5 separate regions of the Homo sapiens genome follow, and regions 1, 2, 4 and 5 are each reported to be linked to region 3. Evidence: microRNA targets listed by miRTarBase, many of them from high-throughput screens and not tested one by one. Region 3 holds a microRNA gene; each other region holds the end of a gene's coding sequence.

The links. The annotated mature microRNA hsa-miR-6730-3p reads CCUGACACCCCAUCUGCCCUCA and lies in region 3 at 4,557-4,578, opposite strand. An mRNA with a match to its seed (bases 2 to 7 or 8) in the 3' UTR can be bound and repressed. Matches are read on the target gene's strand: a 7mer-m8 pairs with bases 2 to 8, a 7mer-A1 pairs with bases 2 to 7 and ends in A, and an 8mer does both.
Region 1: the mRNA of ZNF516 is a reported target of hsa-miR-6730-3p. Seed matches in the 3' UTR shown: 7mer-A1 at 2,548-2,554.
Region 2: the mRNA of TMEM200C is a reported target of hsa-miR-6730-3p. Seed matches in the 3' UTR shown: 7mer-A1 at 4,376-4,382.
Region 4: miRTarBase lists DYNLL2 as a target of hsa-miR-6730-3p. Seed matches in the 3' UTR shown: 7mer-m8 at 187-193 and 7mer-A1 at 821-827.
Region 5: miRTarBase lists CMTM6 as a target of hsa-miR-6730-3p. Seed matches in the 3' UTR shown: 7mer-m8 at 2,435-2,441 and 7mer-A1 at 4,886-4,892.

Annotation. Positions count from the first base shown.
Region 1 is chr18:76,359,489-76,365,863 of GRCh38, forward strand. ZNF516 (zinc finger protein 516) reads right to left here. Exons shown (of 7, transcript NM_014643.4): 7 at 1-3,069. The coding sequence ends at 3,010. Among named protein-coding and RNA genes, the nearest start is that of ZNF516-AS1, 130 kb to the right of the region's middle. RefSeq lists enhancers at 2,390-2,891, 2,892-3,391.
Region 2 is chr18:5,885,405-5,891,779 of GRCh38, reverse strand. It overlaps TMEM200C (transmembrane protein 200C), which reads left to right. Exons shown (of 2, transcript NM_001395400.1): 2 at 1-6,375. The coding sequence ends at 1,582. It overlaps MIR3976HG (MIR3976 host gene), which reads right to left. Exons shown (of 10, transcript NR_172496.1): 8 at 4,058-4,259; 9 at 2,607-2,700. Among named protein-coding and RNA genes, the nearest start is that of TMEM200C, 6.9 kb to the left of the region's middle. RefSeq lists an enhancer at 1-480 and a silencer at 998-1,217.
Region 3 is chr1:12,574,402-12,580,384 of GRCh38, forward strand. MIR6730 (microRNA 6730) reads right to left here and starts at 4,622; the gene lies at 4,556-4,622. It overlaps DHRS3 (dehydrogenase/reductase 3), which reads right to left. Exons shown (of 6, transcript NM_004753.7): 3 at 4,892-5,011; 4 at 4,317-4,555.
Region 4 is chr17:58,089,109-58,095,158 of GRCh38, forward strand. DYNLL2 (dynein light chain LC8-type 2) reads left to right here. Exons shown (of 3, transcript NM_080677.3): 3 at 34-6,050. The coding sequence ends at 171. Among named protein-coding and RNA genes, the nearest start is that of DYNLL2, 8.7 kb to the left of the region's middle.
Region 5 is chr3:32,479,870-32,486,244 of GRCh38, reverse strand. CMTM6 (CKLF like MARVEL transmembrane domain containing 6) reads left to right here. Exons shown (of 4, transcript NM_017801.3): 4 at 2,148-4,933. The coding sequence ends at 2,285. Among named protein-coding and RNA genes, the nearest start is that of CMTM6, 20 kb to the left of the region's middle.

The DNA of each region.
Region 1 (6,375 bases), not on the chromosome of region 3:
CCTGAAAAGATTTTTAGAAGCTCATTAGCTGTGTGTTATTTGAACGCAAAAATGAGGAAGAGATATGAGCAGGAAACAGGAGAGTATAGGAAGGCAGGCCAGGGTGCAGCCAGGCCCCAGCAGGGGCAGAGCGGGAAGCAGCGAGCGGAAAGCAGGGGAGAGACACCGAGAAGCTGCAGTGTAGACAACCAAACCCTTTATTGTCTAAGTTACATTAGACGCAACACTGTAAAAAATCCTGTTAAGAAACAAGGAAACAGCAGATCGGGAGAGGTAGTAGAAAGTCTGTAACAGTCAGAAGACAACGTACAGAAGTGTATCATGCAGAAATTACCATTCGGAAAAAAAAAGGCAATCAAAACGGTGGCTAAATAAATAAGGAAACACAAATCATATTAAATACTATGACCAAATCAACAAATTAACAAACCAACACAATACTGACGATGGGTGGAAGGAAGGGACCACACATCCAGGCCTGCCCACAGCTGGCCTCAAGGGATGGCGTTCTTGGGGGGGCTCCCCAGTCTGTTTAACTGGGTGAAAACCTTCCTCCTGCACTCTGTGCACCCTGCGCGGCCCCGCAAGCTGACTGTCCTCCACGCCTGCTCTCCTGCAAGCCAGGAAGGATCCAGCACGCGGCCGGCAGGGCCCCAGCGCCAGCCCACTCCCCACCAGAGCCTCCAGGATGGAGCCTCACCAGCAAGACACTTCCAGCTCCAAAGGCCAACTGCACTTTTCCATGCCGCTTCTGAAACAGTAAAAATGTAGACTACACTTTCGTGTCACTTTGGGTACAGAATTTCTTTTTAATAACTAAAACACAGAGAAACAGGACTGGGTCACTAGTCCCTGACATTCCTAACAGTCACCATTCACTTTCAGCCAAGAAAACAAAAGCCAGAAAATGCAGAAATGATCACTGTGGGGAAACTACTGAAATGATTAAACATAAATCAACAGAAGAGTCTTCTGATTTCTTAGGTGGACAGAGGAATGTGTCTCCGCAACTTTGCCCAAAATAACTTTACAGAACAGTCAATTACAGTTGTTTAACTGTATCTGCATGGACATTCCTAATTACACCAACAGGACAGATCATTTTCGTACATATCTGGTGTAAGAATATCAGAAAAAAATAAGTAAAAAAAAAAAAAAATATATATATATATATATATATATATATATATAAGCTAGCCAGTTACATTGCATCGTTTGAAAGTGTTGCAAAGTAACCTGAACCGTCAAGTAATTTAAACTCAGTAACAAGTAGAATCCAGAACCAAACATTACTAATAACAATAACAATAATAATAATAATAATAATAATAATATAATAATATTCAACAAATCATTAGAACAGGAAACCCACACTTTAGGGTGTGTGTGTGTGTTTGTGTGTGTGTGTGTCTGTGTTTAAACAAGACTTTGTATCAGAAGCCCACTGTCTACAAAAACTGCACTAGTCCATTACCGTATTAAGTAAACTGTTGCTCTCGCCAGTATTAAAGGTTAGGATAATTTCTGTACATGTAAAATTATTGCTTTTTTGAAAAATATATTTAGCATGCTCGTTTTAATCCATTTCCTGCCTTTACAAAATTTCACAATTAAAAAAAAACCTAGTAAAGCTTTTGCAAAAAATTTCACAGAACATTTTCATTCAAGGCAGCAGTAACTTTTGATAATGCATAAAATCATATGTGCAAAAATCTGAAACTCTCAGAAATATTACCATCACACATAGTGTCACGGCAATGGGAAAAGAAAATATTTATATCTGTGGAATACCATTTCAATTGCGTACACTGCATGGTTTAAGATCCTTTGTTATGGGCCTTAACCCCCACCACAAAAACTCGCATTTGCATTACTGAGGAAGAGGTATATGAAGCCGTCCCCCACCCAAGGGGCTGGTGATCCCCACCCTTTATGAACAAAGTCACTCATCCTGTGGAGGTCACCAGGCCCAGGGAGAAAAGACACCCACTTGCTGGGGTGGCTCAGGGAAGGGGCGGGGAGGCAAAGAGTGGGGACAGAAGGCGCCAGAGCTCAGCACCCTAGTCATCTAGGGCACCTGAACCTGCTCAGGGATTCTTCTGCCATTACTAAAACAGGTCCGAATCGGGAGGACTCAGTGGCTAAATAATTTGTTAAGACGTATAGTCTTCCTTTGTAAGCAGTTTGCAGAATGTAGCCCTGTTACAAAAAGGTCCTGAGAATAAACAAGAAGCCTGCTTTTCTTAGTGTTGCGCTAGCTCTCTTCCGAGGCGGAATCTACGCATTCCCACAGACGTGTCTCCTTTGCCAGATTCGCTCAGTTCGAATGGTGGGAAGAATGGAACAGGCACACGGCCCCAGGGAGGAGTGCGATGGAGCCAGTGAACAATGAGGGTCTCATCATCATACCCCTCCGCCAAGCCTGCTTCCCACAGCACCTGAACGTCACCTCCTTCCTCTCTCTTATTTACTATTTTAAATACCCACTAAGACAAGGAGAGGCAGTAGTATTAATACTCGATCAACCTCAAATCCACCACGTCTTGTTCTGACATCATCCCCACAGTCCCTCTTAACATGGGAGGCCCCTGTGACAGTGCTCAGCCTCGCCACTCTGTCCAACACACACAACAAGTATCTTTTTTTCCAGTGTCTCAAACTTGTCTTGAATAAGACAGATGCCTTGTGCCCCTACTGTGCCTGCCAGTACTACTGTTTATTATAAGAAAATATGGGACTATGGACGATGAGCACGTAAATGCGTATATAGTATCTACATGTATTTCTAGAATATAGCATCTTCATTTATTTCTGAACGTTTAACAAGGAGAGGCATCTGCCTTCAGTTTCCACTCCAGCGCAGCGGCTCGGGATGTGAGGTGTCTGCTCAGGAGTTCCCCGGCTGTTCTTCCATGGAGCGGCCAGGTCACAGGTGGGAGGCTGCTGGGACATCGTGAGGGTACTGCTAATGGCCGTTACGGGGACCTGGGGTGCGTCGGAAACACGCCTTTAGGTTCCCTTTCTCAGAGGCACTGTCTGGACGGTACCTGTGTTAGAATGGTCTCTCCCCTGGGTGAGAAAAAGGAAAGAACAGGAGAAAAGCTCATTTCTGCCTTTTGGTTTCTAAATGCATTTTTCCTATTAATTTTCTAATCAACATCCAAGAACACAAACAATGACCTTCACAAAGCAAGCCAACCAAGTAGGCGAAGACCCCCTGACCTGAGCTGTAACTCATTTCATAAAATGAGCAGCAAGTATTTCAAATGTGCCTTCCTGCCTTAAAGAGAGGCAGCTTGAAAACGAATCATTTCCAGTGTGATTTAGAAAGGATCATTAGGCTTCTCTAATGGTTTCACATGTAAGAATGGCAGATGATAGTGTCTGAACCAGCTCTGGAGAGAAGGTTACAAGTTGGCAAGATGAGGAGGCGGCCAGATTGTAAAACTGTATAGTACAAAGCAGATTTACAAGTGAACGGTAGTTCCAAAACAAGGCTGAATTTGGGGGTCATACAAACAAAAAGAAGAGCACGGCTCTCACGTAGGTCTGTCAGAACTTCAGAGCGTGTTCACCCATTTCCATAAACAATTACCAAGTTGGAAAAAGGGAAGGAGTATTCTAAAGTGAACTGCGAGAGAAAACCAAGCATAAATGGGGGTCCACAGCTTTCAGAGAATGCTCTCCAATGACATTTGAAGCATCCCTGTTTGAACAATAGCATTTACAATCTGAGGACAGAAACAGTATGGCCAGATTAATCTTACTTAACTGCATTAACCTTCAGCTAAAATCTTGATGAAGTGAAACTGACCAGTGGAAATTAACATGCATACATAAACTAAGGGACTCGTGTAAAATTCTGTTTCCAGCTATGCCTATAGGAACCCCAGAAATAATGGCGGAGTGGGGGAAGGTCTGGTTGACATAATGAATTAAGGGCTTTTCTTTAGTTAATAGTTCCAGAAAACTCCTACTTACAGCTGGCTCTGTGTTTGTGACATCTACCAGTTGGCATGTAGTGGAAGTCAGAAAGATACTGGACAAAATTTTACGAGGGGTTAGGGGGTGGGCAAAGTGGTGGAGACAGCAGTTTATTTGAAATGTAGGAAACAGTAATGGAATGAGAGATGTGATAAAACTTCCCTAAGTAGATGGTGAATTTCCTGCAGTAAACGGACAAAGACTGTTTTACATTTTTGTACAGTGACGTCAGGCCGTGAAGACATCTCTGAGGTTCTGATGGGAAATATTCATCATCAACAGGGCTCACTAAGAACCAATTCCAAATACATTCTGGAAGGAAAATGGTCTTCGTGTTTACCAAAGAAAACTGGGAGTTATAGTTAGCTATTGGGTGTTTGGCCTTGACCGTCTCTGCATAGCAAACATAGACGTCAGGGACCGTAAGAGGCGGGCAGGGGATGCCTGTGAACACAGGTGCTGTGTGTGCCTAGATTGCACATGGACAGCACCCCCAGGGCACATCCACCTGGGTAGCTCTTCTTTTGGACCAGAAGTCACAGACTTGCATTGGGTTAGGCATCAATGGACTGTTCCAGAGGCAACAGGAAGACGGCCCTCCGTCCATGAAGGGCTAACGTTTTATATTACAGGGCTCAGAAGGCTTTAAAAATATTTATTTTGGAAGCACTGCAAAGTCGGGATAAGCCAAACAACTAGGTGGTTAAATTGTGTTCACAAATCCAGATGCAGAGACGCCCATTTTCTCTTCATAACTGAAGGGATGTGTTCCAATACCTCATTTTTTTAAGATAGTTGCTTTAAGTTATTGATTCACCGGAGGCCACCATGTTATTATTCAATAAAGCAGCCCTAGAGCATTTTTAAGAAATGAATAAAACAGGGAAGAAAGGAGGCAGAGAAATATTCAAATTAAGTGGACACACTATAATCTTTTGAGCACGCCCACCATCGCCTTGTCTTCCTGGAAGGGAAAGAGTAGTCAAAACATGAGAAGCTTTCGGAAGATTTCGCTTTTCTTTTCTGCAGCTGTGAACTGTGGGCTTTTCAGTAATGCTGAAAGACATACTATCTTTCTTGAAGGTATTTCAGTGTTCTAGGGATGGATATTGACTACTGGGACTTCACGAGGTCCACTTTCTCTCTTTCTTTTAGTAAGGCAAGGGAAATGTGTATGTAGTGGTGGGTGTGGATCGATGCCCCGCACACAAAAAACCTGCCATGCCCCAGGACACACGGGGCACCTCTCGGCCTTCAGAGGGAGGTCAGCCTGTAAACAGGGCTTGTGGTCAGCCACGCAGGCAATGCTAAGTGCCTGAGGACCAATTATGCACAATGCTTTACTGACTAAAACCTTTACCCAACAAACCATAAGTAAACAAAGGCTATGTGACTGGGGGGATTTTGGGTAATTCGCCAAGTCTAATTCATGATTTTTGGTAGCATATTATATTTAGAGAAAATGGAAAATGTGTTTTAAGATGCTTGTTTGGTTTAATAAATAAGAAAAGCTTAAGCAAATGAGCTGAATTTCAAACTCTGATCTGTGATGCTGAGACTCTGAAAGTGATACTGAAAATAGATTATGCATATATTCAAATGTACCAACCTACGTGATTTCTCCATCATTTGCATTATAATAGCCACAGCTAAAAATGAGACAAATTAGGTCGCCATTTGTTTTTTCATTTCCTGTTATTTTGATTAATGGAATTATTTATCCAGCTTAACCATTTTAAAATAACATTTAGAATAATAAGAAATAAACTATTAATCATAGTCTTTAAATTCTGGCAAGGAATCCAAACAAATCAAAACACCAGATTTCATATTTCAGCAGACATTCTGGTCTTTCAATAAATCCCAAAACCACGAGGTTGGGGTGAATAATTTTTCTTGGTTTCAAAAATCATTTTAATTTCTAATGTTTAACAACAATGCAACAAAAAAAATCAATTTCTCTGCAACACTAAAGAAACTTCCTAGTTTTTCCTCTAACATCCACAGGACAAAACACCCAGATTTCAACATATTGTTTTCAGAAAGTGTTCTTTCTAATGATGAATGCTGATGATTACTAGAAATTAAACATTTATTCAGTTGTGCTAAATGGATGACCAAGCATCTTTTAAACGACAACATGCATGAGCTCTTTCCCTCATTTAGAATTTGATTTGGAGGATCAGCGGTCCTTGATATTGGAACCATCTTAATCCAAAACACAGTAAAAGCACCAAGGACAAGCACCGGTGCCACCGCCGGGCTGGAAGAATCACCCACAAGAGCGGATGCCCTCACAGCTGGGCTCCTGAGGCCCAGGGCCCGGACCCTCTCACCATCTTCTAGCTTGTCTACGATCGAGGCAAAAGAGTGAGATGCCTAAAGGGGTGT
Region 2 (6,375 bases), not on the chromosome of region 3:
CCACCGGGTCCCAACCACGGCCAACAGCAGTAGCAGTGGCAGCAAAAACCGGTCCAGGAGCCACCCTAGGGCTCCAGGGGGTGTCAACTCCAGTTCCGCGGGCGCGCCCAGGAGCACGCCTCCAGCACGAGCCGCCTCCCCGTCCTCCTCCTCCACGTCCGTGGGCTTCTTCTTCCGCATCTTCTCTGGCTACCTGCACTCTGACAAGCTCAAGGTCTTCGGGCCCCTCATCATGGGCATCGGCATCTTCCTCTTCATCTGCGCAAACGCGGTCCTCCACGAGAACCGGGACAAGAAGACCAAAATCATCAACCTGCGGGACCTCTACTCCACCGTCATCGACGTGCACAGCCTCCGCGCCAAAGACCTGGCGGCCGCCGCGGCCGCCGCCGCGGCCGCCGCCGCCTCTTCGTCGTCGTCTGCCCCCGCCGCGGCGCCCCCCGGGGCCATACCGCTCAACGGCTTCCTCAGCTACGTGCAGTCGCGGGGCCTGGAGCTGAAGCCCGGGGGCTGCGGTGGCTCCGGGGACGCCTTCGGAGCGGCGGCGATGCTGGCCAAGGGCTCGTGGCCTCCTCACCCCGCGGCGCCGAGCGGCGGCCGCCCTCGGGGCGCCGCGTCCCCGCCGGACCTGGCCTCTTCCCCGCGCTGTCCGCGGGAGCCCCCGAGCCTGGCCGAGGCCGTGTACAGCGTCTACCGCGAGCGCTCGGGCGTGGCAGGCAGTCGCCGGGCCGCCGCTGCCACCGCCGCCGCAGCCGCTAGCAGCTGCAGCAGTCCGGCGCCCTGCAGCCCACCCGAGAGCTGGGGGCGCCAGAGCACGGCCAGCTCCTTCGTGGACTCCTCGCTGAGCGCCTTCGCGCTGCTGCCCTTGCAAGGGGGCCGCGATAGGGGCGGGGACGCGGAGGGCGCGAGCTGCAGCTGGCAGAGGCCTCCGGGGGAACGCGGCTCCCAGGAGATCCCGAGGGGCGAGCTCGACCTGAGCATGACCAACCTCCGCGGCGCAGAGGGCAGCATGCGCGGGGCGCGCCGGGAGCCGGAGGAGCCCGAGGGCGCGGTAGCGGCGCGCGCCGCCAGGGGGCAGGGCGGCCGCCTGCCCAGGACCGGCAGGTACGCGGCCTTGCGGCGCCGCAGCACCAGCGGGCTCCCGGACTACCGGGCGCCGCCGTCCCCCGAGCCCCCGCCCTCCCCGGGGAGTGCGGACCCGGACTCCAGCCCTCTGGCCAAGGCCGCCTCCCCCTCGCCACCCCTGCGGCTGGAGGGCTCGCCCCCCACCAGGCGGGACTCCGGGAGCTCCCAGTCGGATGACCCATCCAGCAGCAATAAGGGCTACACACCCCTGCGGGAGGCCGGCACCTCCACCGAGTCGGTCTTGGACGCAGTAGCTGGTCAAACGCGAGACTCTGCTGTGGCCGCCCCCGTTCTGGGTGCGGAGCAGAGCTCGCCGGAGGGTGCCAGCCAGGAGCCACCCACGGCCGAGCAACCTCAGCCGGTGCAGAGGCAGTTTACAAACAAGGAGAAACTCATCATGATTTCCAGGTCTCATGCCATAGGGGTAGAAGAAGAACTGGAAAGCACAGGCATTTAGAGAAAGGGGTGGGTTGGGGAGGAGGAAAGAGAAAATGGGAGAAACGCCCACTTGAATCAGTGCATTAACAGGTCCCTGTTTCTTTTGTGGACTGATCCGAGGACATCATTCAATATCCAAAGAGCTGCAGAATGTTATCCTTGAATTGCGTCCACAAGATTCCTGTAGATAACTCCAAGGATTTTTTTTTTTAAGCAAACTAGTCTTTTTATGTCCGATGGTGATTGTATGTTCAATGAAAACCAAATGTATTAAAAGGTCAGCAATCTAGTCCATTAGATAAAATCTTTTAATTTTCTTAGGATCAAAATAATATATTTTTGACAGTAACTGTGCACTTTACTCCGACTTTTTTTTTTAATCCCTCATTTCCCGACCCCTGTACTCTGCGCTGGTTTTGCCCACAGCTGCTTGCGAATGGCAGGCTTTTTTCTCCATTCCTTTGCGGAACATAGAAGAGTTTGTCTCAGTTCTCTTAGAATTGATGTTACTAACTGAAGTCAAAGCCAAAAGCATGAATAATTCAGGAACGAGCACTTTCCTTGCCCCACCCCACTGTGCTCACCCAATGCCCAAAAGCTTCTTCATTTTTAAACGGGTGTGTACGTTTTGCTACTAGGCTATGTGGTGGAGACTGGAGGGGACCAGGAACTAGATGGACTGTTACATTCCGAAATTTATATCAAGTACACCATGCTTTATTGAGTGTTATCACACCTGTATTGAAAATAGCATTAATATTTAAAATCTTTTTTAATAAAAGAAGTTTCCGAACAAACAGTTAAACATAATATTGCCTCATTTGCCTTGGAGCTAGCTCATCTGGTACCTCTGAAATATTTTGCTGTGACACTGCTACCAGGACTGTTGTGATCTTCCCCCAAAGTACTCAGCACCATTGTCGCATGTCCAGCGTATTTTTAAGCTTAAAATGTAGGGTAGTATTTAACATTTGGGAATTTCTCTTTCAAATAGAATGAAACGTTAAGTAAATAGTAATATGCCTATGATACTTCTCATTTACCTGCAAGTATTAATTTGCAGAGCACCAGGCTTAATATTCTCTTCCCATCCTCTTGGCTATCACTGATTATAAGTTAATGGTCTTGATCCATGGCCTACATAGACAAAAAGATAATGTTTTAATAATTTGGTAGATTGTTTACACTTGATGTCATTAAAAGTGAATTAGTTAATTTTCAAGACCAGGAGACAAGATGTCTTCATTTTGGTCTCCTTGGGCAAAGCGCTAGTCCTGTAGACAGAGTGCAGATTCCGAGCTGAGATTGGACCCAGCTGTTGGCATCTCCTAGCTGTGAGGCCTTGTACAAGTCACAAACTCTGAGTCTCAGTCATCTTTCTGTAAAATGAAGAGAACCAGACATATCTCATGGAGCTATGAGAGGAATAGAACAGGGTCAGGGTCAGAGGAGGGTTTATATGTGTGGAGTTTACCAGAACCCTTGGCCCACAGGATGTATTCAATAGATGGGGGTTATTGTAATTATTATTACCATTGTAATATATTGCTGAATGCATAGTGTAGAAGAATGGACCTTCCTTGAACTTGAGCTCAAGAAAGTCTAGTCTGAAATCTGGGATATCCACCTATTATCTGTATAACCTTAGACAAATCACTTAATCCCTCTGGGCCTCTGGTAGATGATATAATCTCTATGATCTTCAGCTCTAAAAGCCTTACTTAAATTCAGGCTCTTGTCCTGGATGTAATCATATCACATTTGTACCTACAACTTGGCAAAGAGTGAATATACGTCGTCAATTACCATTAGCTCAACATTCTGTAATACACTTTAAAAGGGCCTAATTTATTCTCAGATTGGATCTGCATTAAACCGGTAACTCACTTTAAGGCTGTAGATTAATATATTGGGCTCTTCTATAAAGCAAAAGTGAGTTTGCACTAAGGAGTGACATGCAAGTGTAATAAGACCTCAAGGTAGTGTTAAATTTCAACAGTCTCAATTGCTTTATCACACTTCCAAAGTAAATGTCAAACTTCCTTAGGTTTTCTTCTCCATTACCTTGGGTACTGGGTAATTTATATACTGAGATAGCGTGTTACTTCAAGGGGAAAACAGGTTCTGGTGTTCTACAATACTGTTTCCAGTCCTCGGAGAATGCACTGTAAATGTTACATTTATCAAATGCTAAGTGACATTTAGCAAATAATAAAGCTAATACCTCTTAGCTTAACTAAGGAGGGGTGGACAGAATACTGTTTATATCTCACAAACTTAGTTCCATATCAGATAATATCTAACTTAACCATTGAACAATTTAACTAGATTTTTTTTCTGAAGATAGACAAAGATGAGCTCAATTTTCCAAATCTTGGGAGGAGCCTGTGATTTCTTTAGACTTCAGAGGAAGTGTATAAGTGTAGTAATTCACAATCGTAACTTTCATAGGAGCAGAAATCTGCAATAATGCTAATTTTCACTCAGTACTTACTGTGGGTTCAGTACTATTGTAGGAGCTTGGTACACATGATCTCAGTGAATCCTCACAGCAACTCTATTGAAGTAGGATCATTCTTACCGCTGTTTTGCAGAGAAAGACACTGAGGTCAGAAAGATGGAATTGTTGTCCAGGGTTACACAGCTGGTAAATGGTGGATCCAGGATTTACACAGAGTTTGGAAGATTAGGTAGACCTGTCGGCAGATGCTGAGTTGAAATGGGCATTTCTGGAGACCATCAAAATACTTTATATATTCTTTATTTCCTGCCAGATCCCTTTCCAGACCATTCTTAGAGAAATGCAGAAAATTGTCAGAATGCACAGTCAGATAAAAAGCTGGAGTTCGTAAATCTTCAGACGGGCATGAACAAGTTTTTTTGTAAGTGACTTTTCAGGGGTTTTTGTACACAATAAATAAGAGTATTTGAAAGGGCCTTATAGATGATAGAATCCCCCCACCTTTAATTTATAAATGAGGTTTCTAAGATTTAGAAAGATGGAACAATTTATTCTGAGACAAACAGCAGTGGCAGGACTCGAATGTTAAATTAAAATAATTGCAACAATTGGTGTGATGGTATTTTTTCCCTGAATTTCTGTCATGTACCAGCTGGGTGACCATGGACAAGTTACATAGTCTCTCTGTGTCTCAATTTCCTTTTCCACACTATAGGAATAATAATGTCCCTATCTTACAGGACTGGAGTAAAGATTAAATGAACTAATATTTGTGTAAAGTGCTTATAATGGGCTTGGAACATAGAGAGTATTATACAAAGGTTTGTTCCTTTTATTTAAAATAGAATCAACTGCTAAACAATTACTTCATATGACCTTCCTTTTTATTAATAGAATAATTTTAGGCTTAAAAATCTAAAGTATAAGGCAACATAGCATAGTGGCTCAAAGTGTGACTTAGGGGGTTATATAACATTATAACTGGGTCTTCACATCTAGTAAATGGAGATAATAAATGGAATTTGGCACATAGAATTAATTATTTAAATGAGGACTAAATAAACTAATATAATTAAAGGACTTAGAACAACTCCTGGCACATAAAAATATTCAGTAAATGTTAACTACTATTATTAAGGCAAAATACAGAAAAGCAATTAGTAGGCTAAATTTACTACTCAGTAGTTAGGGACAACCATAAACTTAATGTACTAAAAAGTCTTTAAAATTTAGGTATATCAGAAAGAAAAGTTAGACCTTAAAACATGAGGGCTTATGCTGCTGCAATGCCTCCTGGTAGAACATAGAACTATCAAGAGCTAGACATATGCTCCTTATGGTCCCAGGATCATAATATTATATAACAATGAATGAACGCCCAAACTGGCACACTTGGCTATATTTAGCCACAATTATTGCATTTCCATTTATTGAGGCTAGCCGTATCAGAAAGGCCAGTGAAGTCCTTGAGGTCTCAGCCCCCTATTAGGCTTCAAGTAAAGATCAGGTGCTCTATTGAGTTATTTAAATTGTCTAGACAAAAGTTTTTTCTATATTAATTTTTTTCTTCAGTAATTTTGAGTTCTTTAAGATGCAGTTTTGATTTTTTTTTGAGCTAGAGAACTTAAGAAAAACCCTCTGACACATAAAATTAGTACAGACTAAGTATATGGACTTGTATTTGGATTAGGATAGTATTTTTGCCACGATATAAAAATACATTTTATAAATAAGATCTTCTTGTATTAAGGGTTGCAGTTTAAGATGGATATTTTTCTTACTTATAACAAAGAATAGGTTGATGTTTACGGAGTTTGTTTTCCATAAACCCAGACTATTTTAAAATTTTTATTGCTATTTGGAAGGGAGGAATAAAACTCATTGGGTGAATATTTAGACTAAATTTTTGAATGACTAACTCTGAAAAACAATCTAAGACACCCCACCCTACCCCAGGGAAGTTATCTTTGGGGTTTTTTCTTCAAAAAGGAATGAGATTCTTCTTTAAATTGATAAGAAAATTCAATGTTTTATCTATTAAGCCACCACCAGTTAAGGAGTCCAACTTTAGTCAAACTACCTGCAACTCTGCCAAGACCTGAGAAGCTCCTTACTTTCTGTATGCCATCCGTTCATCTATGACATCAGAAAAGCACTGTGCTAGTGCTGAGCCCACATGGGTGTGAACTACAGTAGGAGTTACAAATGCCAGCCATCCTAAGGACTTAGCCTTCATCCCAGAGCCAGAAGCATTTCAGGATTTCCACCACCTGGAAAGATATTGTTATTCCACTTGAAATGGGCTCTTAGCTGTTGCCCCTTTAATAATGCCAGCTATGACATGGACATGG
Region 3 (5,983 bases):
AGTGATTCCCCTGCCTCAGCCTCCCAAAGCACTGGGATTACTGGTGTGAACCCAGCTACCACGCCTGGCCATGATGGTGATTCTGAGGCCCACAGCCCTGTGGTCAAGAGGGGCCAGCCTCTGCCATTCTACAGAGATGAACGTGTTGAGGCAGCTCACTGATACTGGAGTCCTACAGGTGTCGTGGGCGGTCTGGATTCTCTGGCTTCCACCTGTGGCCTGGCCTGTCTCTTGGGAAAGGGAAGGCAGGATGGACAGACCAAAGTCCATGGGCTTGACGGGAATCCTTCTTGGTAAGACCCCTGCCAGGGAAGCCGACAGAGGAGGCCTCAAGCACGTCTGTGCGCAGGATTTTCTCCTTCCTCTCCACGGTGTGTGGGATGGGGACACGGGGAACTGGCACAGCTATTAACTCCCATGGAAGCAGTGCAAATTCGTGGAAGAAGCATGCTTAGCTAGCCAGTTTCAAGCTATGTGGACTTGGGCAGGTAACTTTGCTTCTCTGAGCCTCAGTTCCCTCATCTGTAAAATGGGAATAAAAGCTCTCTTCCAGGGTTGCTGTGAGGGCCAAATGCAGCAGCACTTGTAAAGTGTCTAGTGGTTCTAGGTGGTTCTATGGCTGGAACATCGAAGAGGCTCAATTGGCTGGGCGTGGTGGCTCATGCCTGTAACCCCAGCACTTTGGGAGGCTGAGGCAGGTGGATCACTTGAGGCCAGGAGTTCAAGACCAGCCTGGGCAACACGGCGAAACACTGTCTCTACCAAAAATACAAAAATTAGCCGGGCATGGAGTCAGGTGCCTGTAATCCCAGCTACTCGGGAGGCTGAGACAGGAGAATTGCTTGAACCTGGGAGGCGGAGGTTGCAGTGAGCCAAGATCACATGACTGCACTCTAGCCTGGGCGACAGAGCAAGACTTTGTATCAAAAGAAAAAAAAAAAAAGAGGCTCAATAAATAGCAATTTATAAACAATAACATCCACTGACATGGCCAGTCTTGCTGGGAAACTCACTCATTTTGTCCTAAACATGTCTTCACATTTAACCCATTTAACCCTGGGAGGCTGCTAAGCATGGTTGTAGGAGGAAACCCATGCTTTTATCCATTTTTTATTCTTTTAGGAAATGGGAGTTGGTTAGGTACCCATCTTCCTTGTACTACTCTTCTGGCCGAGCCCTTGGGGCTCCCCTGCACAACCATAGGTAGCTAATGTTCACCTAGTGCTTGCTACTTGCCAGGCGTGGCCAGATGACTCACACACAGGAGCTCATCTAACCCATGAAAAGGGGATACTATTATTATTATTATTATTATTCATTTTTGAGGTGGGGTCTTGCTGTGTTGCCCAGGCTGGAGTGCAATTGTGCAATCTCAGCTCACTGCAACCTCCACCTCCCAGGTTCAAGCGATCCTCCTGCCTCAGCCTCCTGAGTAGCTGGGATTACAGGCACCCACCACCATGCCTGGCTAATTTTTGTATTTTTAGTAGAGACAGGGTTTCACCGTGTTGGCCAGGCTGGTCTTGAACTCCTGACCTCAGGTGACCTGCCCGCCTTGGCCTCCCAAAGTGCTGGGATTACAGGCGTGAGCCACCGTGCCCAGCTGGGGATACTATTATTATGAATCTCTTTTTAGAGGTGAGGAAACTGAAGCAGAGAAAAGTCAAGTAACTTGGCCAAGGTCACACAGAGCTGGGATTTGACCCCAGGCAGTTTGGGTTCACGCTCTGAAAAAATGTGGCAGGAAAACCTTGAATTTCCTTCTTAAAGTGGTAGGAAAGAAGCTATGCTAGAAGGTGAAATAGACACACAAACTCGATGTCTGCAATGTCCTGCTTGCTTCTGTGCTCAGGACACCCAATTAGAACTGCAGACTGCCGGCTGGGCGTGGTGGCTCACGCCTGTAATCCCAGCACTTTGGGAGGCCGAGGTGGACGGATCACGAGGTCAGGAGATTGAGACCATCCTGGCTAACACGGTGAAACCCTGTCTCTACCAAAAATACAAAAAATTAGCTGGGCGTGGTGGTGGGCACCTGTAGTCCCAGCTACTTGGGAGGCTGAGGCAGGAGAATGGCATGAACCCGGGAGACGGAGCTTGCAGTGAGCCGAGATGGCACCACTGCACTCCAGCCTGGGCGACAGAGCAAGATTCCGTCTTAAAAAAAAAAACAAAACAAAACTGCAGACTGCCACTGATGCACTTCTGTCCAGTATGCATTTATTGAGCACCTTCTGTATACTCAGATGAAAAGAAACCAAACCAAAACCCATGGGGGAAAAAGCCAACAGGAAACATTAGTAGCCATTAGTCTAGACTCCTCGAAATTCAGAATTGATGACAATTTGCATGCAAACCAGGTGGTCTGCTAGGAAAATTAATAACATGCATTTATGAAGATGTTTATTGTTAGGAAAAATAATAAAAGCAGCAGCTCCTTATTGAGCATCTAGTATCCGGGCTTTGCACTAGATGTGTTACATGTATTATTTCTAATTTCCTGGGCTCAAGCCATCCTCCTGCCTCAGCCTCCCAAAGTGCTGGGATTGCAGTCATGAGCCACCAAGCCCGGTATTTTTGATTCTCAACAATCAACACCGCACTGTCCCGATTAATAGTAACTAAGGCGTAATGAGTGACTCCCACGTGGCATGCACTACACTAAATTGTCTCACTGAATTCTCCTCATGACCCTTCCGTGTCATCCTCATTTTTGGAAGCAGCTGCAATATATAATCAGAAGGTGAAGCACTGTACGCTGGATTGCAAAAAACCAGGGAGAATAGTATTTGAGTAATTCCCGGTTTTCATTCATCGATGACGTCATGCCCCTACATAACTGCACATCATTAAAGCGCCATTTATTGGGCACTTAATATGTACCACACACGGTGTTCCCTGCCAGATTCCACTTTGTCCTCACTGCAGAACCTATGATGGAGACATTCGCGCACCCCATCTTGCAGATCAGCCACAGCAGTAATTAACGGGACCCAATGTCACAGAGTACATCACAGCTATGAGGGAGTCACCACCCCAGGTGGCATGAGCTCTAGACCAGTGGTCCCCGTTCCCCTTGACTTAACTGGTTTGGAGGAGGAGTGGTGGGACCTCCCTATTACTCATTTTAAATTGAGCTACGGCCAGGCGTGGTGGCTCACACCTGTCATCCCTGCACTTTGGGAGGCTGAGGTGGGTGGATCACCTGAGGTTGGGAGTTTGAGATCAGCCTGGCCGACATAGTGAAACCCCGTCTGTATTAAAAATACAAAAATTAGCTGGGTGCAAGCGCACGCCTGTAATCCCAGCTACTCGGGAGGCTGAGGCAGGAGAATCACTTGAACCCAGGAGGTGGAGGTTGCAGTGAGCCGAGATCGCGCCACTGCACTCCAGCCTGGGCAACGGAGCGAAACTCCATCTCAATAAATAACTAAATAAACAAACAAATAAATTGAGCTATAATTTGCATATAACAAAAGGTATACATCTTAAGCAGACAGTTTGATTAACTTTCACGTATTTAATGACTGCTAAGTTCAAGAAGAGAGAACATTTCTGAAGGTCTTGCTAGTTCCCTCGCCTCCCTCCCAGGTTACACCCCCAGCCCTCCAGGGGAAGCCACGGGTCTGATTTCCATCACCCTAACCCAGTTTTGCCTGTTTTGGAACTTCATACAGGTGGAACCAGGCAGAATGCACCCTATGTCTCAAGCTCCCTTCGCCCTGCACGACGCTGTGGAGGTGCATCTCCCTCATTTGACCTTTAGACACATCCCGCTGCATGCCTGTAGCTCTGGTAGTTTCCTATAAGCTCCCTGAACCAAGCAGCAGGACCCTCCCCATCGTGGCATCACTGCCTTGCAGACCGAGAACCAGGTAAGACAGCGTCAAACAGAGGGTAGAGGCTCCTTGGTGACTTTTTGTTTTGAGACAGGGTCTCACTCTCTCTCCCAGGCTGGAGTGCAGTCGCACAATCACAGCTCACTTGCAGCCTCAACTTCCTGGGCTCAAGCAATTGATCCTCCCACCTCAGCCTCCCAGATAGCTGGGAATACAGGTGTGCATCACCATGCCCAGCTAATTTTTTATTTTTTTTAGACACAGGGTTTCTCCATGCTGCCCAGGCTGGTCTCAAACTGGATTGCTGGGCTCAAGCGATCCACCTGCCTTGGCTTCCCAAAATGCTAGGATTATAGGTATGAGGCACCGTGCCTAGCCCGATTTTTATATCAGAGCTCTTTCTGCAGTTGGCTGACTGAATGGCTTGGGGAGGCAGGTGAGAAGGCTGGTCTCAAGGTGGGTCCCCTGCTCACTGACCTGACTCTCATGCCCTGGAACATCTCGGTGCTGGTGTGGAAGGGCAGCACTGTGGTGGCGCTGACTCCCGGACAGTCCAGCAGCCCCAGGGTCAGGCTCTCCATGAAGGCGAAGGCTGACGCTTTGGATGTGCAGTAGTCGATGGCACCGGGGATGGCAGACAGTGCCAGCACGGAGTTGAGGCACACGATGTGGCCATTCTGCAGCTCCAGCATACGCGGCAGGAAGGCCTTGGTGGTCTGAGGGCAGATGGGGTGTCAGGGTGGAGCAGCTGCAGCTCTGACAACCCCTCCACCTTTCTTTCGGGGAGAACAGCCCACCCCGGACACACATGATGCTCTAGGGCCCGAGCCTTCCTGCGAGGGAGAGGGCCGAGGGCTCCCTGCCCCAGGACACCGAGCATATTTCACAAAGTCTGATGTGTCCTAGAGCTGGTCATTCGTCTTGTCTGGCCACCTTGTTCGTGGACATCCCTGCTGGCCTGAGCCCAAGCCCTGGCAAATCATCCCCTCCCCTCCATCCTGCCTGGGCTCCCTGCACGCCCGGGGCTGGCTCTGGCCCCGGATAGCCCTTACCCAGAACTGGCCCAGGGTGTTGATGTGTTGGGACTTGAGGAGGGCATCATCATCACTGTCCATTAGGCTCTTCCCATGGACCACGGCGGCATTGTTCACCAGGATGGTGATGTCACCCACCTGCAGGCGAGAGGGAGCCACGGGGCCATGAGGGCAGCCAGCCCAGGGCCAACGATATATGTTTTTTGTTTGTTTGTTTTTGAGATGGAGTCTCACTCTGTTGTCCAGGCTGGAGTGCAGTGGCACCATCTCGGCTCACTGCCACCTCCGCCTCCTGGGTTCAAGCGATTCTCATGCCTCAGCCTCCCAAGTAGCTGGGATTACAGGCTCCTGCCACCATGCCTGGCTAATTTTTATATTTTTAGTAGAGATGGGGTTTCACCATGTTGGCCAGGCTAATCTTGTTCTGACCTCAAGTGACCCGCCTGCCTCGGTCTCCCAAAATGCTGGGATTACAGGTGTGAGCCACCGCACCCGGTCCAATATACTTTTTAAAAGGGATATGGCTTACTCCTAAGTGAACGAGTAATTTCTGAGTCCATTTATGATCAATCAATTGATGTGTTATTTACAAGTTTTTCTTAGATATTCCTTCCCGCAGGCCACTTTCTGCCAGCCTAGTTCCAGTTATCCTGCATACATAGAGGCCCAGCAGCCACCTGGCCGTACCACCAGCAGCCACAGGGCCTGGGGAAGAGAACTGCGTCTCTGAGCGCCAGTCTTGATTTGTGAGATGGGGCTAATGCCGCACCAGGACTGTTCTGAGGAGGAGAAATAATTTATGGCACACACCGTACCTGGCACACAGCATATTTATAATAAATGAGTTTACTGCGACATAAAAACAGTTAACATTACCACGTGCCAGACAGTCAGGGTGGGTTTCCCTCTCTTGGAGGTCACTGATATATTTAGCCCAAACAGATGACTGGAGTCAGAAGGATTTTCCCAGAGGCCAATGGGACATTTGCCCCGCCACAGTCCTGGAGAGAAACCCACACGGTCTACATTTCCAAGGGAACAACAGATGATTACGCCTGTTACGTAATCAACCCTAATCCCTGCCTATGTAACTGGGGCCAGCTTCATGGG
Region 4 (6,050 bases), not on the chromosome of region 3:
TTACCTTTCTTCTCTACCTTTGTTCTTTTTTAGGAATTTGACAAGAAATATAACCCTACCTGGCATTGTATCGTGGGCCGAAATTTTGGCAGCTACGTCACACACGAGACAAAGCACTTCATCTATTTTTACTTGGGTCAAGTTGCAATCCTCCTCTTCAAGTCAGGCTAGGTGGCCATGGTGAAGGTGTCAGTGGCGGCGGCAGCGATGGCAAGCAGGCGGCGTTGCTGGGACTGTTTTGCACTGGAGCCAGCATCAGGATGTCCTCTCCAATGGCTGTGCTACTGCATGGACTGTATACTCGATTTCATGTGTATGTCGCAGTAAACAAAACCAAACCTCTTTCTGTTTAGTTGCCTGGGGGAAGAAGGCTGCTTTATGTTTATTTTTCAAGACTTTAAAAATATTTTTTGGTTGTATTGCACTAGGAAATCTCTCCCACCTCTCCCTTTTCTCTTTCTTTCCCTATACAAAATAAAAGGCCCACCATAGAGACTAGGCGGCCGAAAGACTAGGAGGGCTGAGGAAAAGAAATAGGTCTCTGGAGGTGGAACTAAAACTGTGCAGCTGCCTCTTCCTGGCGGTGGATGCTGCTTTGGGAGGGCCAGGGAGGCTGCAGGGGGACAGTGTTGGGATTGTCAAGGAAAAAGGGGTAGGAAGGAAGGTGGAGGGATTGATCTAGTACCAGGGAGAATATTCCACTGAACTGTGATTCTATGGCTTGGGGCGGAGGGTGGGGTGGGGATGCCTTCTTTAGGGGCCCTGAGATGTGTTTGTCTGTGGTGTGTGGGAGTGGGGAGCAGATTTGTCTTGCTGTCTTTGTCAGAATTTCTAAGTAAGGGCTGTGTCTTTGTGGATTACCTTCTTTTGTTCTTCCTGCCAGAGATCATGACAGGAGGATGCTGGGGTAGGATTAGCTTGAATCTTTTTTTTCTTTACATTTTTCTCCTGTCTGCTCCCTGCTTAGCCCTCAGTTTCCTCATTCCTCTGGAGTTCTCTTAGAGCAGCCCCTGTTGTTAGTTGGCTGGCAAGGGAATTTCTGGTGACTGTAGTTCCTTAGTTAGGTCTTAGCAATCAAACCAAATTGATGTCTCCCTTGACTCTTCTGTGTATATGTGTGAATATGTGTGTATATGTGTGTGTATGTGTGTGTGGGGTTTGGGGTAGAAGGGAGGGAGGGGGCAGGACAGTGTGGAATCTCTAGGGTGTATGGGTAGGTAGGGGGCACAGTTAGTTCTAAGTGGGCTTTTATGCTAAAAGCCTCTGGGGATATCTGTTTTGAAAATAAAGATAGGTGTCCCCTCCTTGCTGTCATCTAGCCCAGACACTCTGCTTGCTCTCTGGCTGTCTGCTCCCTGGGAAGGCTTTAGGAGGACCACCCAGGACAGGATGACCATGCTGCCATCTGCTCTGGAGCTGGGTCTCAGTGCAGAGGGACAGTGACTGTGGATGGTTGCAGTCTCTGGTGGGAGGTGAGGATAGAAGTGATAAAGAGCTAAGAGGAGCTTCTGGGAGCCTTGGAGGAGGTCAGTCTTGCAGTGGTGAAGCCAGGACATAGGAGATGGAGCAGGGCTGTGAGAGGAGGAGATTCTGAGGAGGATGCAGGGGAAATCTTGTCTGTTAATGAAATAGGAGTGGGGTGGGGTTTGGGGTGGGGTGGTCATTGCCGTTTGAGCTGCTGATTTTCATGAGTCGCCTTCAAAACTCTCGTGTAGGGTTGACAATGTGGGGGGGTGGGGGATCCAGCTTATTCTTTTATTTTCAAGTCCATTCTTGGGGCTGGTGGGGAGGCAGGAGAATACCCCTCCCTAAGCCCTTAGTGTGTGCCGAGCTTGCTTTGTGATGTTGGCAGGGGAGGGGAGACCTGGGTGGTGACTGAGTTCCCTTTATCAAACCCTTCAGTGGGCACAAAATTGAGTGCTTGATTTTAGGTTTTATTTTTTTATGAATGTCCAAATCTGTGTTTCCCCCTGCCCTCCCAGACTGTGTGGCCAGTTGAAAGTGTCTGGTTTGTGTTCATCTCTCCCTCATTTCTGGAGCAGGGCCTGAGACCCTGCCACATCTCCTATGCTCTGCATCCACGCCTCTTTTGGACATTAAAGGTTGATTGATGCACCTCTGCACTGTTTGGGTCTCTTTGGGGATGAGGGGTTGGCATGGTGGCAGTGGTGCCACACAGTGGGTGAGGGTGGAGAGTCTCCAGGGTGGAATAGAATGGGGACTGAAGGGAAGACCAGCCACTAGATACTGATTGGCCTGTAGCAGCACTTATTTGTGCCTAGGCTTATGCCCCTTAAGTAGAGGAAAACTAACCAGCAGCACTCACCCTTAAGGGCTCCTGGGTTCTGCCTTCCTTGGTGGTGATGGCCAGGTGAATCATATTTTGTGTCTTTGGGATAGTAACTGCTACCTTCCCAGCTGCCGTCATGGACCTGCCTGAGCTTTGCTGCTTCAACTTTTGCCCAAAGCTCTTATCTTTCATACTCCTCCCTTCTCGGCTTTCCTGAACCTGGAGACTATTTAGCAAAGGGTCTGGCCACTCAGAAATGGAAAGCTGGGGATATTTAGAAAGATGGCACCTCTTTTGGTGGAACCTAAGTGATTCTCTGAATCCTCTGTTGCCCAGACACACAACTCGAGAAATCAGCAGTGCCAAGACTTCTGAGAGTGTCTGCCCACCCCTGACTCCACCATCGTGTGACTGCAATTCTCTTGGAGGTGTTAGGGAGCCAGAGGTGCTTTGCCCTCTTTGTGTTACTATTTCTTTACTCAAAAATATTTAAGAGTTCTTGTATGCTTGGGCCTAGGATGCTGTTCACAGAGGAGAATGAGACAAGTAAGTTCTAGGCTTCTATGACATACACATTCTTATGTGTAGAGCAGACATACACACACTGATCAACTTTTTCCAATAGTGATAAATGTGTTATCAAGGAAATGAACTGGGCAATGAGCTATTGAGTGTTGGAGGTAGGTAGATAGGGTTCCTCCAGTTAGGAAGGTGGTTGGCTGATCTTGGGGAGAAGTTCTACCTCTGGGGCAGTGAGGTCCTAAGGGATTAAGTTGAGAGACTCTAGAGCCCCAACTTCTGTTACTGCTTTAGCTGTCGTGAGTAATTTGACAGAGCTGGAGCTTTGGGAGGGAGAGTGAGGCCACAGTTCACATTTCATCAGGGATGAGTGTCTCCAGGGCCAAAGCTCATCTACTTTCTTCCCTGATGAAAGAGGCAGTCCAGGTGGCATCTGTGAACAACACATTCCTGCACAGGTAGGTGCACAGTGCTCATCTGGAAGACTAATCCTGCAGGGCTTCCTGGAGGAGATGAGCCTCCACTTTTCGGGGCCCAGGATGGGAAAGTATGTGAGCATGTGTCACTGAAGGGACTGTGGAAAGCAGATGGAAATTGTGGAATTCTCTCGGAACAATGCAGCCATTATTAGAACTGTGCCCATAGGAGCATCAATATCCCTGCTCCTTGTATCCTGTTCTCCAGTCTTCTGGGGACCCCCTTTGACTGAACCCAACCAAATGGCAGATGACAAGGCAGACCCAGGATGCAGTCTGTAGGGTTCAGTCCCCCTCCCCACTGGGAACAGCAGGAAAGGGCAAGGTGGTGACAATCTAAGGGAGGCAAATGGATAATAACCAGCATGGTAGGGAATCTTCTTTGTTGCTGTGGCACTGTCGATCTCTGTTCCCTGAACTCTAGTGTCCTCCAGACTAGATTTAAGGTGTGGTTCCCCGCTAAATTATTCTCTCACCTCCTTTCAGTCTTTGCTCAAACATCCTTTTATCAGAGAGGCTTTCTGACATCCTGTGCAAGATAGCACCTCTCCCCCATCGCTGTTATCCTTACCCAGTTTAATTCCACGTAGCATCTGCCAACGCTTGACATATTTGTTTTTTGTTTACTTTCTGGCCTGTGACAACTAGAATATAAGCTCTGTGAGAGCATTTTTCTCTTAACTGCTTATCTTCAAGTAAACAGAACAGTGCCTGTCCTGTAGGAAGTGTTTGATACATACAGATTGCTCAAATGAAAAAAGAAGGGTGCGAGCAAGCCTGGACAGGCCTGGTGCCCCAGGGCAGCCTTGCCTTTTCTGAAGAGAATGGCTGCCTTAGGCACGGCTCTCCTTGCTGCCCAAGCCTTGCCACCTTGAAAGGCGTGAGAGGGTCACTCCCAGGTGTATTCAAGCAAGAGTGCCTGAGCCACTCTTGCTTGGCAGTATGGGAGGATGAAATAGTGTGTTCATAAAGTGCATTTTATTTTTAAAGCATTTCAGTTTATGTTGCTGAAACCTGAGAGCGCCCCCCTGAGCTAGACTCAGTAATCATTAGACACATTTTTGGATAAGCAAACTGAATCAGAGAAGGTGAGTGGCAAAGCCCATGTAGCTGGTGGCATTACTAGAACTTAGCACTGTGATGCACAAAGGCTTAACTGGGTTTGGCAGCAAGGGTCTCATGGATACTCTTTAAGATGTAGGCCCAGATCTCTTAGTAGTGAATCCCTGATGTTCCCTCTCTTGGGGCTCTGGTTTAGCAAGGACAGCGAGGATACTTTCCTCTCTCCCTCCTCCTTACTCCTCTCTACTAAGGATTAAGGAGCCACCTCTTCCTCCTTAAGGCCTTTGGGAGAGATGGGTCTCCTGGTATTAGAAAGGAGAGCAGACGCCTAGAGTTCTGACCTCTTGGGCCTCCCCTAAACAAAAAGCATAGCCCCTTCACTACCCTAGTAACAAGTATGACCTGTTGCCTGTTGAGGTCAGGTGTACCTGTGTGTCTCTCTCTGTGATGTATGTGGGCTTGGTGTCCACATCAATGTGCGTGAATACTCCTACCCACAGACTGCTACTGTGCCAATATAGAGGTTCATAAGAAAGATAAAAGAGAACCAGCAGAACCCCAGGTTCTGCCTCTCCTTCCTCCCTTTGCCCAGATAAAGGTGTACAGTGTTTGTGGTGAGGCTGCTGGACACTGCTGTTTTGGGCTTTCTAGAGAGAATGCAAACATGCAAAAACAGTGTGGTAGTGTAGGCAGAACAAGATCTAGAATCAGAAGACCTGGAGTCGAATCTCAGCTCCAACACCCACTGGATGAACGTGGACAAGCTGCTTGATCTCTCAGATCCTCGATTTCTTCATCTGTAAGATGGAAACAATATGTGTCTTTTCTAAGGGGAAAGATCAAATGACATCATGTATGTGAAAATGCTTAGAAATGGGTGATGATGATGATGATGATACTGATTATTAGGGTATCTAATAAAGTTGGGGAAAGAACAAAATCCCCCCCTCACACCCTATTGCACCACCAGCCTTCTCCCTCCCTGCTCAATTATACCCATGTTATAGGGAAGGAAATAGGGAAGAAACTTGTCTAAGGTCACATGGATGTTCGCAACAATTGGGATGCAGAACTTGATCTGACTCCCAGGCCAGGTTTGATTTTGATTTGCAGTGGCAGAGAGGACTAATTTTTTACTAGGTTCTGAGCCCTGTACTGAACTCTGGATTGCCCTGTACTTGGTGGTGGTATACAGTTCAGCAGTTTTTAGCATATACACGAATTTGTGCAGCCATAACCACTATCTAATTCTAGAACATTTTTATCACCCCCAAAAGAAATCATGTACCCATTTGCAGTCACTTGCCATTCCCTCTTCTCCCCAGCCCTGGGAAACCACTGACCTACCTTATATCTCTATGAATTTGCCTAATCTGGACATTTCATATAAATGCAATTGTACATGTGGCCTTTTGTTTCTGGCTTCTTTCACTTAGCATGTTTTCAAGGTTCATTTGTGCTGTAGCATTTATCAGTACTTTGTTCCTTTTTCTAGCTGAGTAACGTGTGGGTATATCACATTTTGTTTATTCATCTGTTGAGGGATGTTTGGGTTGTTTCTACTTTTTGACTATTGTGATTAGTGCTGCTATGAACATTGATGTACAGATTTTTGTGTAGATATGTTTTCAATTATCTTGGGGCATCTTTTATTTTTAATGTCAGTTTTCTATTTTTAAAAAATCTAGACAGGTTGGCAAATC
Region 5 (6,375 bases), not on the chromosome of region 3:
AATCATCTTGCAAGTCAGCTGGTTTCCAATTAATACTTTGTTTTTAACAAAATTGAAGTTAGGCCGGGCGTGGTGGGTGGTGGGTCAACGCCTGTAATCCCAGCACTTTGGGAGGCCAAGGCGGGCGGATCAGGAGGTCAGAAGTTTGAGACCAGCTTGGCCAATATAGTGAAAGCTTGTCTCTACTAAAAATACAAAACTTAGCCGGGCATGGTGGCAGGCGCCTGTAGTCCCAGCTACTCGAGAGGCTGAGGCAGGAAAATCGCTTGAACCGAGGAGGCGGAGGTTGCAGTGAGCCAAGATTGTGCCACTGCACTCCAGTGTAAGTGACAGAGTGAGACTCCATCTCAAAAACCAAAAACAAAATTGAAGTTGTAATTAATAGAGTTGTCAGCTAATACATCATTAAAACTGCATTTTATGATAGAAAACTCAAAAGGAGTTCAGAGAATTGCATGGCTATATTTATCTATTCATATGACAACAGTTTCTTAGCACTTACATGTGTAAAAACAAAACATAGAAATAAAATTAACACTGAATCTTGATTCATTCTAGCAATAAGCAATATTTATTCATGGGTACATGAACCAATAGAAGAGAAAAATCAAAGTTTTAATAGGGCTTTATGGTTAATTTCAGTTTAGAAACATTTTTGTTGCAGAGGAGTATGAGATGGTGATCAATAAAATAATGAGTTTTTTAACTCATTTTTAATTTTAAAAAGCTCTGGCTACTTATTTGTATAAAAATACATTACTATAAAATTCTGTGGGGAAAGTGAAATGAAGTTGAGGAAAAATTGAGTTCCAGGGAAAAAATTTACAGCTATAAAAAAAATTTTTATATTTTAATTAGACTGTCCCAGTATTTATATTTCATTGGATATATTTAATAGTGACAGGTAGTTTAAAAAGCTGATATTTATAATATGCTGGAAATTACCTTTTGTAACTATTTAAATTATGAAAAGTTTTATAGACTTAAATGCATGAGGAAGTTCTTTTTTTTTTTTTAATTCAGAAGTGTGTGAACAAAAGAGCTAGAAGATGACTTGTGGTGATCAGAGACAGCTTCAAAAACAAGGGTGACATTTGGTCTGAGTTTGATGTATTTAAGAAAGTTGCCAGGAAAATAAGGGGATAAATGCCATCAAGTCAAAAATAAAGATTCCAGAGGGAAAAAGACTTGGCTTTTGTGGCGGGGGATGGGAGGGTGGGAGGCGTTGATAATTAAATTTAGATTGGATATGTTGGGGATATCTGGGGGACTTAATGAATTTGGAGCTCAGTTTACTTTGTGGTAAAATGAGGTGGAATGCTTATTCTTTAGAGGGGGGAGGAGAGGTCAGGAGACTGCAACAGACTGTAAGAGAATGTTATTAATAAAAATCGTGGAGATAGGGAGTTTAGATTTGGAAGAGACTTTAGCCATCACCTACATCAATTTTCTCTTTTTTACAGAGAACTTATCTGGCCCCCATATCCTTAAGGGTTTTGCTAGTGGAGAAGCTAAATTTGAAGCAGACGCATGGTCTTCTGTCTCTTGATAGAATTCTCAGAACGTATGATCGTATTTTAGAAGAGAACAGTTGAGGAAGTGATTTAAGGAAGAGGAAGTAGGTAGTGGCGTCATGTCACTGTGTCATTGCAGTGTGACAACTGGAACATTATTTAAGTAATTTAACCTAATAGTATCTTCAAAATGGAATTTCTGTTTTGATATTAATAACTTTTTTCATTTTCACCTAGGCTGAGTTGCCTAGTCACGTATTTTCCTTATCGCATCTGTGGGTCAATCTAACCATGCAAATATTTTTGTTTTGTATCATTTTATAGGATTTAATGTTTATCTGTTAACCCTACTTTCATATATTAGCCCTCCACATATAAACATGCACACATAAGGCAGAACATTAATATTTTGTGAGACTTTGACTAATAGCCATTATTCTGGAAGTTTTTCTTTTATAACTTCTTTCCATTTTTTGATGACTTAAAAAAATTTTTTTTACCATTAAAGAGTAGTCGTGTATAAGATAAAATTCATGAACATCTTGTTTATATGAAACATTCTCCAAGCCAAGTAGGAAATGTAAGATTATATTCCAAAATTCTCATATAACCTTTCCTCCTTTTTTTCCTCAGGTGTTTGGATTTATAGCAAGTTTTATGTTCCTACTTGACTTTATCACTATGCTGTATGAAAAACGACAGGAGTCCCAGCTGAGAAAACCTGAAAATACCACTAGGGCTGAAGCCCTCACTGAGCCACTTAATGCCTAAAGACTCTGGGGAGCAGATGTTACCTAAGGTAGTGACCCTGCATTGTGGTGCCTGAGCCCTGGCAGAAGCTCTTGTAAAATTTGTTAATTGTTTAAACCACTTCTTTTGGAGAGCAAGGGGAAGGTCAAGAAGGCAGTTTTATCAATATTGTGTCAGTCACCACAAAGTAGGCCAGATAAGTTAAAAAAAATTTTTTTTTAAATAATAATTGAAACTTATCTCAAATGGAGATTTTGGTGGGAGGAGGAGAAAACAATTGTTTTTAAATCACACAGCTCAACGGTTGATAAATGATTCTGTCATTCTGTTACAGGTCATTCTTTTACTAGGCTTAGCTTCCAAATTATGCTTTATAGCTGTATAAACATCGTGATTATATTCATCTACTTAGAAATTGTTTTATTTTTAAATTAATTTGCTTAGCTGTTTGTTTTGATGCTTAGATTATGTTCTGTTAATGGGAATTTAACATATTTAAGAAACCAATATTTAAAATGTTGGTCTAGGTTTTTTTCCTTAACATATATTACCAGGCTTTACTGTATTTCACTCAGCCTTAAATGTTATAATATTTTTGGATAACGGTTATTAATTCTTTGAGACCTTCGTATAGCCTATAAAATGTATGGGAGATGTTGGTATTTTATGTGTATAAAAGCAACAATATCAGCAACTTCGTGTTTATACTGCACCTTGGTTGTTGATGTCAAGTAAAAAAAAGATTGTTTTGTAACACATAAAAAAATGGAAGAAACTGATACCACACCTAAGGACCAAAGATAAGAAAGACTTTTTGCCCAAGACAGTGAAAGTAATTATAAAAACAAGCTTTGACCACTTACCAAGTATCTGAAGAGATGAGTTCATACTATGATTTAGAAAGTGGTTCAATTCCCCTGTTGGCATATGATTATTTTTACTAAAATTAATACAGCTCTGTGGGTCTTCCTTAGTGTTTTCTTTGAAGCCAATCTGTTTTTTTTAGGACACCAGCCTTTGGTTTTTCATCTGTTCGAGATGCCTCTTCTCTGTCTCCTTATCAGATAGAAATGGAGTCATGTGCTGCTGCTTCATCTAGCAGAGGTTGGCCTCTGGCTCTGACACTTTTTGTCAGTTGTCTTTAGGTGGTCCTGAATCTTGGGCCCTTTTGATTGTGAATACTGTGTAGCAGGATCTTGAGAGTCCTTGTTCTTACATAGGCATTGCTCTAGTTTGTCTTTGGCAAAAAAAAAAAAAAAAAAAAGTAAATATCCAGGGAACCCTGCCCAGACTAATACTGTTGGTGGCATAAGAGAATCAAGCCATTCTCAAGAGATAACTTCATAACCAGAATTGTCTGTTGGCTAGCAGCTGTCACAGATAGGCAGGGCACTTGGGATATGACCTTTCTGTCCAGGTGATTCACAGACTAGACCTTTCTTATCCTCCTCCTAGAGTTTTGACTTGGGACTCTAGTGTTAAGATGATGAGCCCGTGCATCAGGTCCTTCTGCACTTTGGTGGAAGTCTCCCAGGGTAGGTTTCCTATTTGAAACAGTGGAATCATGTTTCCAGTGATAAAGTTTAATGACCTCATCCTTTTTTTTTTTTCTCATCTGCCATTTGTGTGTCTTAGATGGGTTTTAATTGCATGAATGTGGCTAATGTGGTTCTCAGAAATTGGTCAGTATGGCCCAACATAGCTTCTGCTCTGTCTTACTGACTCAATACCTTTAGGATTTGTATCAGAGTTTGGATACTAGTGTTAGTGGTGGTGTCACCACTACTTAATTGGGAGATAATGAAACCAATCATGGATGCTGTTTTTATTGGGCATGTCATCTAAGAGAGGAGAAATAGCTGGGTTTTGGGTCTAATTATGAATAAGGACTGATTCAGAAAACGAGTTTATGGTAGGTAGACTAAAGTTTCACATCAGACTGTACCATTGTGATTTAGACCTATCTAAAATTCAGAGCATATCATCTGGGCTACCTCAGGGTCACCACCCATGTATTGGGCTTAGTCAGGATTGACAGATACATTCTCAGCTGGCCTGTCATATAAAACATACTGTCATTGAGCTTAAGCTCCGCTTGTTCTGAGGTTTCACCTCCATGTGTTTCATTGGTGCAAAAGTGGATCTCTTAGTTGGTCACTTAATTCTTTCTTTTTCAGAAAGATAGTATGTTCACTGGTATATTTGGTCACTCTTAGAACCTTCCTTCACATTGTTTTTTATGGGACCCATGAATGGTTAGCCTTTCTTTTCTATTGTAGAAGGAAATAAATAGGAGTAAAAAGACCATTGTAGTAAATAAGTTCAAGGGGAACTTGGGACCAGAAACCACTGTTATGTACAAAAAAATGGCAAATTCAATAAACTCAAATTTAAAATAATTTTTAAATTAACAGTTATGATAAATTTTATATTTTATACAAATAGATTGCTTAGAATGGTTCTCAAGAATTATAAGAGAAATGAACTCACAGTACAAAAATTTTATAATTACTATACTTGTGTTTTGTTTGGGGGCTGGGAAATGTATTTTTACATTGTAGCCAATCATTTTATATTTGTCAATTTAAATCTTATGGGTCTTTTTTTTTTATCTCTCTTGATGTCAGATTTTATAGTCTTTTTAAATAAATCCATTTAATTAAAACGTTCTTACCTTTGTAAGTGTTTATTACAGAAGTGTGATGTTTAAATGAAAAGCTGTCTCTGTAGTTGTGGGAGTTGGCTGCACAATCTTGTTGAGTGCCTATATAGAATACTAGATTTTAGATATATCTAGGATAGAAAAGAAACAAATCCATTTCCCATCCATAAACTGTCCCTCTTGTTGGAAAGTTAGAATACACATTTAAACAACATTTTTAGGGAACCACAGAGGAAGACTTACAAATGGCTTTAAATACTTCCAAAGAAGCAATTTAGACTCCTTGTCACATTTCTAGATGTGGCTAACAATGCTAAAAACAAAATAGGCACATTATCTTAGGAACTGTTCAATGATTGGGAAAGTGTGAAGCAAAATTATTAGGGTGGTGCTGGTAAAACTACAGCTATTTGTGTAGTTTGCGAAATTCCTGCCTCCACCCTGTGTGAGAATAACAGGGTCTTTATAGTCATCAAGAACTCACTGGAATTTGTACATTCTTCAGAGTTTAGAGTTGAGTTTTGTTTTGATAAAGAGCATTGTATCAATATGCAATAAGCTGCAAGAAGCAGAAAATCTAATTAAATGTGTCTTAAACAGTAAGAAAAACTTATTTCATAAGACATCTGGGTACATTGGTGAATTCAGTGGCCAAATTTTTCTACAAGTACAGTAATGTGTGTCATAGAAATTGATATAATAAAGGGGGAGGCTGGGCGCAGTGGCTCACTCCTGTAATCCCAGCACTTTGGGAGGCCAAGGCAGGCGGATCAGCTAAGGTCAGGAGTTCGAAACCAGCCAGGCCAATGTGGTGAAACCCCATCTCTAGTAAAAATACAAAATTTAGCTGGGTGTGGTGGCACATGACTGTAACCCCAGCTACTTTGGAGGCTGAGGCAGGAGAATCGCTCAAACCCCAGAGGCGGAGGTTGCAGTGAGCCGAGGTCATGCCATTGCACTCCAGCCTGGGAAACAAGCGCAAAACTCCATCTCAAAAAAACAAACAAACAAACAAAAAAACAACGGGGTGGGGGGAGAAGTATTGTCTTTTCCCCAACATTTTTATATTTAGCTACTTTTTAAAATTTTTGAATTTGTTTGTTTGTTTTGGAGACAGAGTCTTGCTCTATCCTTCAGGCTGGAGTGCAGTGGCGCCATCTTGGCTCACTGCAACCTCTGCCTCCCGGGTTCAAGCGATTCTCCTGCTTCAACCTCCTGAGTAGCTGGGATTACAGGCGCATGCCACCAAACCCTGCTAATTTTTTTGTGTTTTTAGTAGAGATGCGGTTTCACCATGTTGGTCAGGCTGGTCTCAAACTCCTGACCTCAGGTGATCCACCTGCCTTGCCTCCCAAAGTGCTGGGATTACAGGCATGAGCCACGGCGCCTGGCCTGAAATATTTCAAGTACTGGAAGCACAGAGGATAATACCTGTTGTAGACTCCACTC